Linked DNA regions of Homo sapiens: region 2 is linked to region 1. Evidence: fine-mapped expression QTL. A gene starts in region 1. The other region holds a variant in brackets. All regions are shown on one strand. Distances are between the middles of the regions.

What was found. PIP is the estimated chance that this variant, and not a neighbour inherited with it, causes the effect.
Region 2: its variant is the best candidate, but not a certain one, in a credible set for the expression of DIPK2B in esophagus mucosa (GTEx, PIP 0.53).

Annotation. Positions count from the first base shown.
Region 1 is chrX:45,198,067-45,203,444 of GRCh38, reverse strand. DIPK2B (divergent protein kinase domain 2B) reads left to right here and starts at 2,569. Exons shown (of 5, transcript NM_176819.4): 1 at 2,569-2,851. The coding sequence starts at 2,619.
Region 2 is chrX:45,149,552-45,154,929 of GRCh38, reverse strand. It overlaps DIPK2B (divergent protein kinase domain 2B), which reads left to right. Exons shown (of 5, transcript NM_176819.4): 4 at 732-1,020; 5 at 2,938-5,378. The coding sequence ends at 3,278. Among named protein-coding and RNA genes, the nearest start is that of DIPK2B, 49 kb to the left of the region's middle. The variant G/T (reference allele first, on the strand shown) is at 2,245.

The sequences.
Region 1 (5,378 bases):
TTCCCAAAATAAGCTTCTAAATTAAGTCTTTTTGACCTAGAACTAACTTTGGGACATTCCAGAGGACCCCTGTAATGTCTGAAAAGATCTGTGCATAATTTTTGATAGTAGATTGTAGCCATATTTGTTGTTTTTGAGTTTTATTGTCTATTTGTAGACTGGACTGAATTCTGAATTCATCTTTATTCCTCCAATCCAATTTTTTCCCATTTTTCAGACTTGAAATCACTCAGAACAAGATGTGCTCTGTTCCTGAAACCCTGCCAGGCAGTTATAGACAACTTGATGTGACTTCTGAGGACAACCCTTATGCCTGATATGTGGACCACTCAGGAAGATCATTGAAACCCTCAGTACCATAACCAGAGACATTCAAACTGCAAACCAGAAAAATATGTTTCAAGCTCAAATCTAGCAATCTTGTTAACTAAATTTCCTCTGGACTCAGACTGAATTTATAGTTTGCTCTAGTCATTGACCTTTGGTTTTCTTTTGTTTCTCTAGAAATGTTAGTTGAGTTGGTTTGTGAGGACCTTGGCTAAGGAACATACTGCAGTCTTTCAGTATTATCCTCCTGGTAGTCATCATAATCTCCCTGGTGAACTACATTCACTTGAGGGTCTTAAATGTGTGTTCACAGTCATCAACGGTATGCCAGATGATCTCACTGTAATTAGAGCAACAAAAATGAGATGAACAACAAAAGGAATCTTTCCTCAATGAGCTTGATGTTGTGACTTATGAGTTTCACACTGAGACAAGGACAACTTAGCCATGATGGTCACAGAGAGTGGAGCTTATGCCCAAGTTTTAGTCAATATCTCTTAAATGAGAGGCTGATCAAAAAGGATGAATTATGTTTTAAAATTCTAATTGGAAGGCCATTAGACTGAGGTGGCTCTGGCACTTTAAATTCCTGTGTGAACAAACCAAAGCCTAATGTAAATAGTAAATTTAAACTAGAAATTGTACCAATCAAAAAAATCACCAATTAATCTCTAACTAGGGACTTTCCACTCTAACCAATAAAAATTGTTTTCTTTGTCCTGCTTCTGCAAACACTATAAAAGTTTCCTTTCTTGCCCCTCCCAGCAGAATGTTTGCAGTCTGATACTGCCCTGATTCATGAATCGCTGAATATTCAAATAAACTCTTTAAAATTTAAATGTGCTTAAGTTTTTCTTTTATCACACCTGACACCAAAAGCATGATTCAAAAAGAAAAAATTAACAAATTGGACTTCAAAATCAAAACTTTCACTCTGCAGAAGACTCTGTTAAAAGAATAAAAGACAAGTTAGCCCTGGGGAGAAAATATTTGCAAGCCACATATCCAACAGAGGACTCGGATCTAGAATATATAAACAAGCGTCAAAACTCACCAATAAAAAGCAAACATGACCAGACATTTTACTGAGGAAGCTATACAAATGCTAATAAGCACGTGCTTCATCATCAGAAAATTGCCTTTACCTGCTCTTCCCACCAATCTTTAGCAAAACTTGTCAATTGTCCAGAGGCAATCCCCACTCCCTCTTACCTCCCTTTTCCTCACCCCCAGCCCCATCTTCCTATGCACTTTCTCATATTTTCAAACCGTGCCCCGCTCCCCACCTCCACCCTCTCACAGAATGTGAGGCAGCCTGACTTCCCTGATTTGGTTCTCAGAGGTTCTCTCTACTCCCAAATTAGCACTTCCATCTACTCCATGCTGCGGACCTTATCTTGGTATCCTGAGGAAGGCAATCCTGGGGCAGTTAAATCCTACCAAATCCGGCCAAGCCACCCCGAGAAGTGAAGCAAGTTGGTAAAGGAAGAGAAGCTTTCAGGTCTGTGGGAGAGGGATAGACACAGCTGTGTGCTGTCAGAGGGCTCTTTCTGGTGCTCCCCTCATCATGCCACAGAGGCCACCGGGTTCTTTCTGGTCTCTTGTTCTCAGACCAGCAAGAGAAGATGGACTAACCTGAGGTTTTCTCTTCCCTAAGCAGCAAAAAGCTTTCAAATCAGTGCTAAATGTGCCAGTTAATGGCAAGCAAGCTAACCTCTAGTTATTTCACAGGCAAATATGGTAAAAGTGGGGGAAGGAGGGCTGATTAAGGGGCAGGACAAATGACCTAGCACAGAGGGGTCAAAAATTGGGGTGCACGTGTAATCCATAGGGACAGATAAACCTGGAATTAAAACAGTGGAGGGTGGAGGCTTTCAGGATCCTTTGAAACTCCCAGGTGGAACGCAGGTTGGACACACATCCTGCATGGACCTTTCCTGCCCTGCCGGGATATCCTGTGTTTGTCAAAAGGACCACACAGGGAAGCCCTGACAATTGTCCTTCCCGAAATCTGCCAGCGAGCCCCTCCCCAGCCTGAAGCAGCCACCCCCGGCAAAGGAAGAGTAACTCTGGAAACAGCGTTATCAGCATCCTCCACTGACTTCCTCACCTCCTCCCCAGCCTCATTAGCCCCAAGCTCCTCAGCATCCTCAAAGAGAAACCTGGGAGGCTGGGATGGGGTCAGCACCCAGAAGCCAGCCCCCTCTGACAGCTTCCTCTTTGGCCAAGCCCTGCCTCTGTACAGCCTCGAGTGGACAGCCAGAGGCTGCAGCTGGAGCCCAGAGCCCAAGATGGAGCCCCAGCTGGGGCCTGAGGCTGCCGCCCTCCGCCCTGGCTGGCTGGCCCTGCTGCTGTGGGTCTCAGCCCTGAGCTGTTCTTTCTCCTTGCCAGCTTCTTCCCTTTCTTCTCTGGTGCCCCAAGTCAGAACCAGCTACAATTTTGGAAGGACTTTCCTCGGTCTTGATAAATGCAATGCCTGCATCGGGACATCTATTTGCAAGAAGTTCTTTAAAGAAGAAATAAGGTCAGAATATCAATCAAATAACTCTGAATCACAAAATTCTGTTCCCTTCTTGTGAAGATGTCCAGGAATTTGTTGAAAAGGAATCAGGATGTAATATGGGTGGGAGCTGAAACAAATCCATTTAATCAGAGTGGTAATGGTCTGAAGTTGGGGTGGGTAAGAGGGCAAGATGTGAAGCCAAATTCCAGCCCTAAATGCTAAATCCAACATTTCCTTTTGAACTGAAAGCTTGAAGTTTTCTTTCCTATGAATGGAGTAGCCTGGGACTGTTGAGTTTATCAAGTTCATTTCTCACAGTGGGCGGGAAATAAAATTTATAGAAAGCCTACAATGTGACACCTATTTTAAATCATTGTGAGAGTTAATGGTGTTCCCCCATTATTGAGGTGGTAAGCTGAGACATAGCCAGATAAAGTGACTTCAGTGGGGGGAAATGGGTAACTCTGTGAGATGATGGGACCCATTTCACTATATATATGTATCTTACAACATCGTGTTGTATACTTTAAATATACACAATAAAATTTATTTTTTAAAAAAGATTAAGTAACTTGCACAAGGTCACCACCGAATAAGTAGCAGCTGTGGAATTCAAACCAGGACGGTTTGCTCCAAAGTTTCTGAGCCAGCTTTCTGTTGTGAGAGATTGCCTTGATCAGAGGAAAACTGGAGCTTAGTAAATTGCAATGCACATGGCTCTCAGCAAAGAATGGCATCACACTTGGAATTTAAGCCTATCAACACACAGTCCATGAGCCTTTACCACAGCCAAACTCTAGCAGGTACTGGGGTGACAGCAACTATAACTCTGGTCATTGCCTTCCTGGAGGTCAGGACAAGGGGGTCATGTTATAAATAATAATAATAAGGCTTTGTCTGATGCAGGGCAGTGTAAAGGACCTCCAGGAGCTCCATTAATTCCAAATGGGAACTGGGGAAGGGCTTCCCCAGGAGAAGGTATTCTGAGCAAAGCCTTTTAAAGGATGAGCTGAAAAGTAACGGGAAGTGAAGGGCTTAAGGTGGAAGTAACATCTTAAGCAAAGGTGTGGGAAGAAGTGAGAGGTGCTTAGCTAGAGCATGGGGTGTATGTGGAGGCATGACAGAGGAGGAGGTTGAAGGGATATATGGGGCAGGGGGTCTTTAATTGCCATGCCAAGGAATTGGGGCCTTAATCTTGTGGACCAGTGGTTTCCAGTCTTTTTAGTACCAAAGACCCTTTGTCATATATATGCCCTTTCTCCTCCATCTTCCTCAAAGGACCTAACTTACGCTTTTAAGATTTGGTGACCAAACAAAAGGCATTAATTAACAATGATTTTATTTGCAATCTGTATTAATCAAAGACATCTTTGCTTACTCAACCAAATTACTAAATAGAAATAATAGATAGAAATACCAATCAAAAATGTTAAACTTCTTTTGTGAGGTATTTTATGGAGTTGGTGTGGACTTTTCCTATTAAGCCTTTTTAAAGGCATATTAAGCGTTTTTAAAGGCATTTTTGAAAGACCACTGATTGAGGAATCTCTACTGCAGGCCATGCTGAGAGTGTTAGGCTGGGGAGGGGCAACATGAGACCTGTGATTTGGGAAGAGCTCGTGCAAAGTGGACAGGACGGACTGGTGGTGTTGGCAGGGGCTGTGAGACCAGTTGCCATAGTCCAGGACACAAGTCACTGGGAACAAAGTAGAACAGGAAGGATACAGGTCAGTTCAGCTATAGAGTCATCCTGTTGACCAACACTATGCGAGAGGAAATAAATATGCAGATGTTGGATGTGAACTCAAGGTTTTCCGCCTAGGAAAAGAGATAAAGAGGACCAAGAACACAGGTGAAGCAATGCTGATTCCTTGGAGAGAGGCAATAAGAAGGCAGACATATTTTTTAAAAGGAGGGAGAGAAATTTAAGGATTCAACTGAGGAAGAGCTCTAGGATGACTGCATATTCACCAAAGGGCAATAAATGAAGTTTTTCTTACTAGCATTTGGCAGATGCTAGCCAAAATCAGAAAGCATTTCCCTAAATAGGTTTGCATTCCGTTAGAGTCCAGGATATTACTTCATCTCCCTTAGAATTCATGTTCCATGTGCCCGTGAAAGGGAAGTGTGCAGATACAAGCAGGAAAACACCAGGCAGGGCAGATTGGGGTTTATAGCTCTGCACATTGAGAATGGTCATCCTCAGCACAAAGAGGCAGAGAGAGGCAGTCAGTGGGTCTGGGGAGGTGGTCCTGTTTAGAGTCCTTTTCTCTACAATATAAATACCTTTTTTCTTATTATCAAAGTCGTGCCTGTTTATTTTAGTATTTTCAGGAAAGGTTGATTAAAGAAAGCACAAAATAAAATCACATATAATTCTTCCACCAAGAGATCACCCCTTAGTCAACATTTTGTTGCATTTCCTTGCCACCCTTTTTCTAAGTGTGAATTAAGAAATTTTTTAACAAAAATGTGAACATGCTGTGTATACTTTTTGGAAACTACTATTTAACAGTATATCAGGAACATCTTTCCACATTATTAAATG
Region 2 (5,378 bases), 49 kb after region 1:
ACTGAGGTGAGAGAATTGCTTGAGCATAGGAGTTTGAGGCTGCAGTGAACTCTGATCATGCCACTGCACTCCAGCTTGGGCAGCAGAGCAAAACCTTGTCTCTTAAAAAAAAAAAAAAGTTTTGCTTTAAATCAGACTTAAGTTGATCCTCTATTATTTTTCCCATAGCCTCTTCCTAAGCAGTGATATCTGTGAAATCTCAAATAATCCTATTTGTTTCAACTATGCAACTCTTAAACATATTTCCCTGAATCCCTGATGCTATCTAAAATTGTGGCAAGTCCATTAACATTCTCATACCCTGCTTGGAGGAACTCTGTTGAAATGCACTCTACTACAAAGAAATGAGAGCAGCCTCCTTTTCTGAATCTTCCCATCAGTAATATAATTAAAAAATGGGGAAGGGGAGGGATGGGGCATTGCCATGTTCCAAGAGGTATAAAAAAGGTTGAGAGACACTTCACTGATGTGTTTTGAGATGCTGATCTTTCTGTACTTGCAGTGAGGGACAGAGATAGAGAGATGATAGATGATAGATAGATATAGGTAGATAGAGATAGATAGATGATAGAGATAGATGATAGATATAGATGATTGATATAGATAGACAGATAGATAGATAGATAGATAGATAGATAGATAGATAGATAGGGAGATAGATAGAGATAATAGACAGATAGAGAGCTGTCACCAGATTTTTCTCTCTAATCCTCCTCCTTCTGGCTTGGCAGATCTTCCCTGGGGCTGAGGGATGGCCGCTGCCCAAGTACCTGGGCTCCTGTGGCAGATTCCTCGTCAGCACCAGCACCAGACCGCTGCAGGAATTCTATGATGCACCCCCAGATCAGGCAGCCGACCTTGCCTACCAGCTCCTGGGTGTCCTGGAGTCTTTGAGGAGCAACGATTTGAACTATTTCTTCTACTTCACCCACATTGATGCAGGCATGTTCGGCGTCTTTAACAACGGGCATCTGTTCATCCGGGATGCCAGTGCAGTGGGCGTCATCGACAAGCAGGAAGGTACTCAGCATGGGCCTGGCTGAGCAGCTGTCAGAGGGAAAGTCAGGGTGACAGGAGCTAGGGAGGGGTGGCCAGGGGTCATGCTATTGGGCCTTTCCCATCTCTGCATGTCATAGTGAGAGCCACTCAAGTTCGGAGAATATTAGATTTCATGTAAAATGTCCCTCACTCCTATTTGAATTTCTACTCTAACTCCATCTCCAAAGGGGAAGTGGATTTGGCCTTGTCCATGAGAAGCATTGTGCATAGTGGCACAGCCCCAGCTGCACCCTCCCAGGGCAGTGCTGTTGTGCAATTGGGTCTATGTGGCCCAGGGACCTGCCTTGACCCTCCTTTCTCTCTCTCTCTCTCTCTTTCTCACTCTCTCTCTCTCTCCTCTCTCTCTGTCACACACACACACACACACACACACACACACACACACACACACACACAAAACTTTTGGGTCCATCTCCCACTCAGAGTCTTTCTCATCAGATGCTTTTACCCTTTATCTAAAACTTAAATATCAGGCTGATTCACTGGTATATTTTGCAATCCATTTTGGCACAATTGCTCTTTATAAAGTTTTCAAAGTAAAAAAGCATGGAACCAAATGAGGTGGATGACTGAATCGTGTTTCTCACTATGTGTAAAGTTTCATTCAGTGATCTAGAACCCTTCGAACACCCTAATCTCTAATGCTAACCAAATTTTCTGAGCCCAATAAGAGGACAAAGGATTTTATTTTCTAATTTCTGATTTTGTTTGTATGCAAAAGCCTACAAAAATAGACAAATTAAACCACACATTTATTTCCTGATTTGCCTTTATTAAAAAGAATCAAATTAGAAGAAATGAGGCTGATTCCAGAATATTCCGGATATGTAAATCATGAAACGTCAGTCACACTACAACTCATTGAATACATATTTGGGATTACTTGTTTTTTCTCCTAACTTTGCATTTTATTTTGTTTTTCATTTTTATTTTTGTTTTTGAGACAGAGTCTCACTCTGTCGCCCAGGCTGGAGTGCAGTGGTACATTCTTGGCTCACTGCAACCTCTGCCTCCCGGGTTCAAGCGATTCTCCTGCCTCAGCCCCCTGAGTAGCTGGAATTACAGACGACTGTCACCACACCCAGCTAATTTTTGTATTTTTAGTAGAGACGGGGTTTCGCCATGTTGGCCAGGCTGGTCTCGAACTCCTGACCTCAGGTGATCCACCCATCTCAGCCTCCCAAA[G/T]GGCTGGGATTACAGGTGTGAGCTGCCATGTCCGGCCCTCACTTTGCATTTTAAAGGCGCAAATGAAACCAGTCCCAATAATTTCCTGAGTTCACTAATTTAGTAATAATGAGAGTCTAACAATATGAATGTGATCTCTACAATTATCAGCCTAACTTCTGGTAGGGGTAAGTGGGTTTTCCATGCCCAGGCCTCACTCTATTGTAGCAGAGTGGATTCTTTCCACGTGGTTCTCAAAAGGAGCCACTGTGTCCCTGAGTCCTAAATCTCCTGGTGACAGGGAAATGCTAGGAGACTATACTAGTTCACCCAGTAATTTTTTTTTTTTGAGATGGCTTTTCGCTCTGTCACCCAGGCTGGAGTGCAGTGGTGCAATCTTGGCTCCCTGCAACCTCCGCCTCCCAGGTTCAAGCGATTCTCCAGCCTCAGCCTCCTGAGTAGCTGGGACTACAGATGCATGCCACCACACCCAGCTAATTTTTGTATTTTTAGTAGAGACGGGGTTTCACCATATTGGCCAGGCTGGCCTCGGACTCCTGACCTCAAGTGATCTGCCCGCCTCAGCCTCCCAAAGTGCTGGGATTACAGGCATGAGCCACCGCGCCCGGCCCCACCCAGGAATTCTAATTAGTGGTGCCCTCCCTCAAGGAGCACTGGTGGCAGGGTGTGTAATACTTCCCATTTCTTTTCTAGGCAGCCAAGAAGCCAACAGGGCAGGAGAGAATAAAGACATTTTTAGCTGCCTGGTTTCCGGCTGCCAGGCCCAGCTGCCCTCCTGCGAAAGCATCTCTGAGAAGCAGAGCCTGGTGCTGGTGTGTCAGAAGTTGCTGCCTCGACTTCTCCAGGGGAGGTTCCCCTCCCCAGTGCAAGACGACATAGACTCCATCCTTGTTCAGTGTGGGGACAGCATCCGCCCAGACCCAGAAGTCCTTGGGGCCGCCAGCCAGCTGAAAGACATCTTGAGGCCCCTGAGAACGTGTGACTCCAGATTTGCCTATCGTTACCCAGATTGCAAATATAACGATAAGTTCTGAAGGGCTGGTGTCTAGCTGGCCTTGGGGACAACACGCTTGGCTCTCCATTCTCCCAGTCGGGTTGCTGCAAGGTAGAAAGAAGCAGCTCTTTTTTAAAGATGAGAAGAAAGGCACACTCATTTCTTAGGGACTGAGAGGGGAGTTGTGAGATACCACGTGGCTGTCTCTGCTGGCTGGGACGTCCTGGCAAAGCCCGCGGTGGGCATCAGAAGACCTGGGTGTGGACGCTCACTCAATGTCTTTGAGCCTCAGTTTCCTCTGTTCTCCACCAGACTCTCCTGAGGGTGAAAGAAGACACAGATGGAGCCACCACTGAGCATATATCCCAAGCATGGGTCTTGGGACACATGCTCACCACCTCCATCCCAGGTGGTTACAAAGTGTGTTCTGGAAAAGCACAGAGGCGGGGAGCATGAGAAAGAGCTGCTCAGGTCAGGAGGCTGGAGTGGAGGGAAGGCAGGGGAAGGACAGGCTCCCTGCCACTACCACTTTAGACTCGGACAAGAGGGGCCCCCTTCCTGCTCCCTATGGCCCTGCGTCACTCCCCACACCATCGCGGGATGAGGAGACTGCAGGCCAAGGGGACATGCCTGCCACCACCTAGAGCCTGGTACCTGAGGCTCCATACACCTGCGCATGGGGCTTCTCGTGGTGTGGGAAGAAGCCAGGGGTAAGAAGATAAAGGGGGGCCGGCGGGGGACCAATGTGTTAGCCCAAGTCTTCCAAGAATATGTGTCAAGATAGAGTGAATGGAACAAAGATTTGTTAGGGGAAATGATTGTGTGTAAGGAAAGAAGGAGGGAGCCGGAGAAGATTGGGAGGACCAGTAAGTCGAGCTGCAAGCTGAGCCCCGGTGAAGGAGAGAATGTCTGGCAGGAGCTTGCTAAGCTCAAAATCAAAGAAAGGTTCAGCAAGGCTGTCAGGGTGTCCTCAAGACAAAGGCAGCCATCAGAAGAGCCCCGTGTCTCCCACAAATAGACCCCGTTAGCATCCCTGCTGCACTCAGTGGTTGGCGGAAACAGCAAAGATAGATTTCAGAGCACAGCAGCAGGGGTCCCTGGTCAGCCCCGCTCCCTAGAGCAGGAGATCTTGAGTGGGAGAACATTCTTGTTGTAGCCACAGCTGAGGCCCTGGACCAGCTCTCTCCACACCGCATGCTCCGAGTTGGGACTCTAAGGAGTCTAGGAATTTTCATTCAAACTTGGCCTTACAGGTCACTCATCAGAAAAATACTTTTTTCAAGGTCAACCAATAGAACATACTTTATTCAACAGTTTGTTAGTTTGCTTTTTAAATATTTAGCCACATGGTATGTAGGCTTCCATGTACACTCTTGCCCTGGCCCCTGAAACATAAGCAGGGGGCTCTTCTGTACATTTGCCCAGCTTCCCTGCCAGCCTTTAACCCCAGGAACCTCTCAGTCTACCTCCTCTTTTCTGCCTCTGAATCCCTACCTTTAAAGTCAGAACAGGCCAGGCCCGGTGGCTCACGCCTGTAATCCCAGCACTTTGGGAGGCTGAGGTGGGTGGATCACTTGACATCAGTAGTTCAAGACCAGCCTGGCCAACATGGTGAAACCCCATCCTTACTAAAAATACAAAAATTAGCCAGGTGTGGTGGCGGGCACCTGTAATCCCAGCTACTCAGGAGGCTGAGGCAGGAGAATCACTTGAACCCAGGAGGCAGAGTTTGCAGTCAGCCAAGATCACGCCACTGTACTCCAGCCTGGATGACACAGCGAGACTCCGTCTCAAAATAAATAAATAAAAATAAAGTCAGAACACCTGGCTTAATAGGCCTCACTGTGCAGATGAGGAAACTGAGGCCCAGGGAGGAAGAGCGATCTGTGGAGATATTTCTAGAACCCCTGCAAGCTGAGCCCCAGTGAAGGAGAGAAGGTCCAGTAGGAGCTTGCTAAGCTCAAAATCGAAGAAAGGTTCAGCAAGACTGTCAGGGTGACCTCAAAGCAATGGCAGCCATCAGAGGAGCCCCATTGCTATTAGGAGGCTCCTATTGCCCTCCCCTTCAGCCTCTGACTTTCACCTGTGCTACCCAATTCTGGTTCCTTCACTCCCATTCAAAAATGGACCCCAGAAAAGC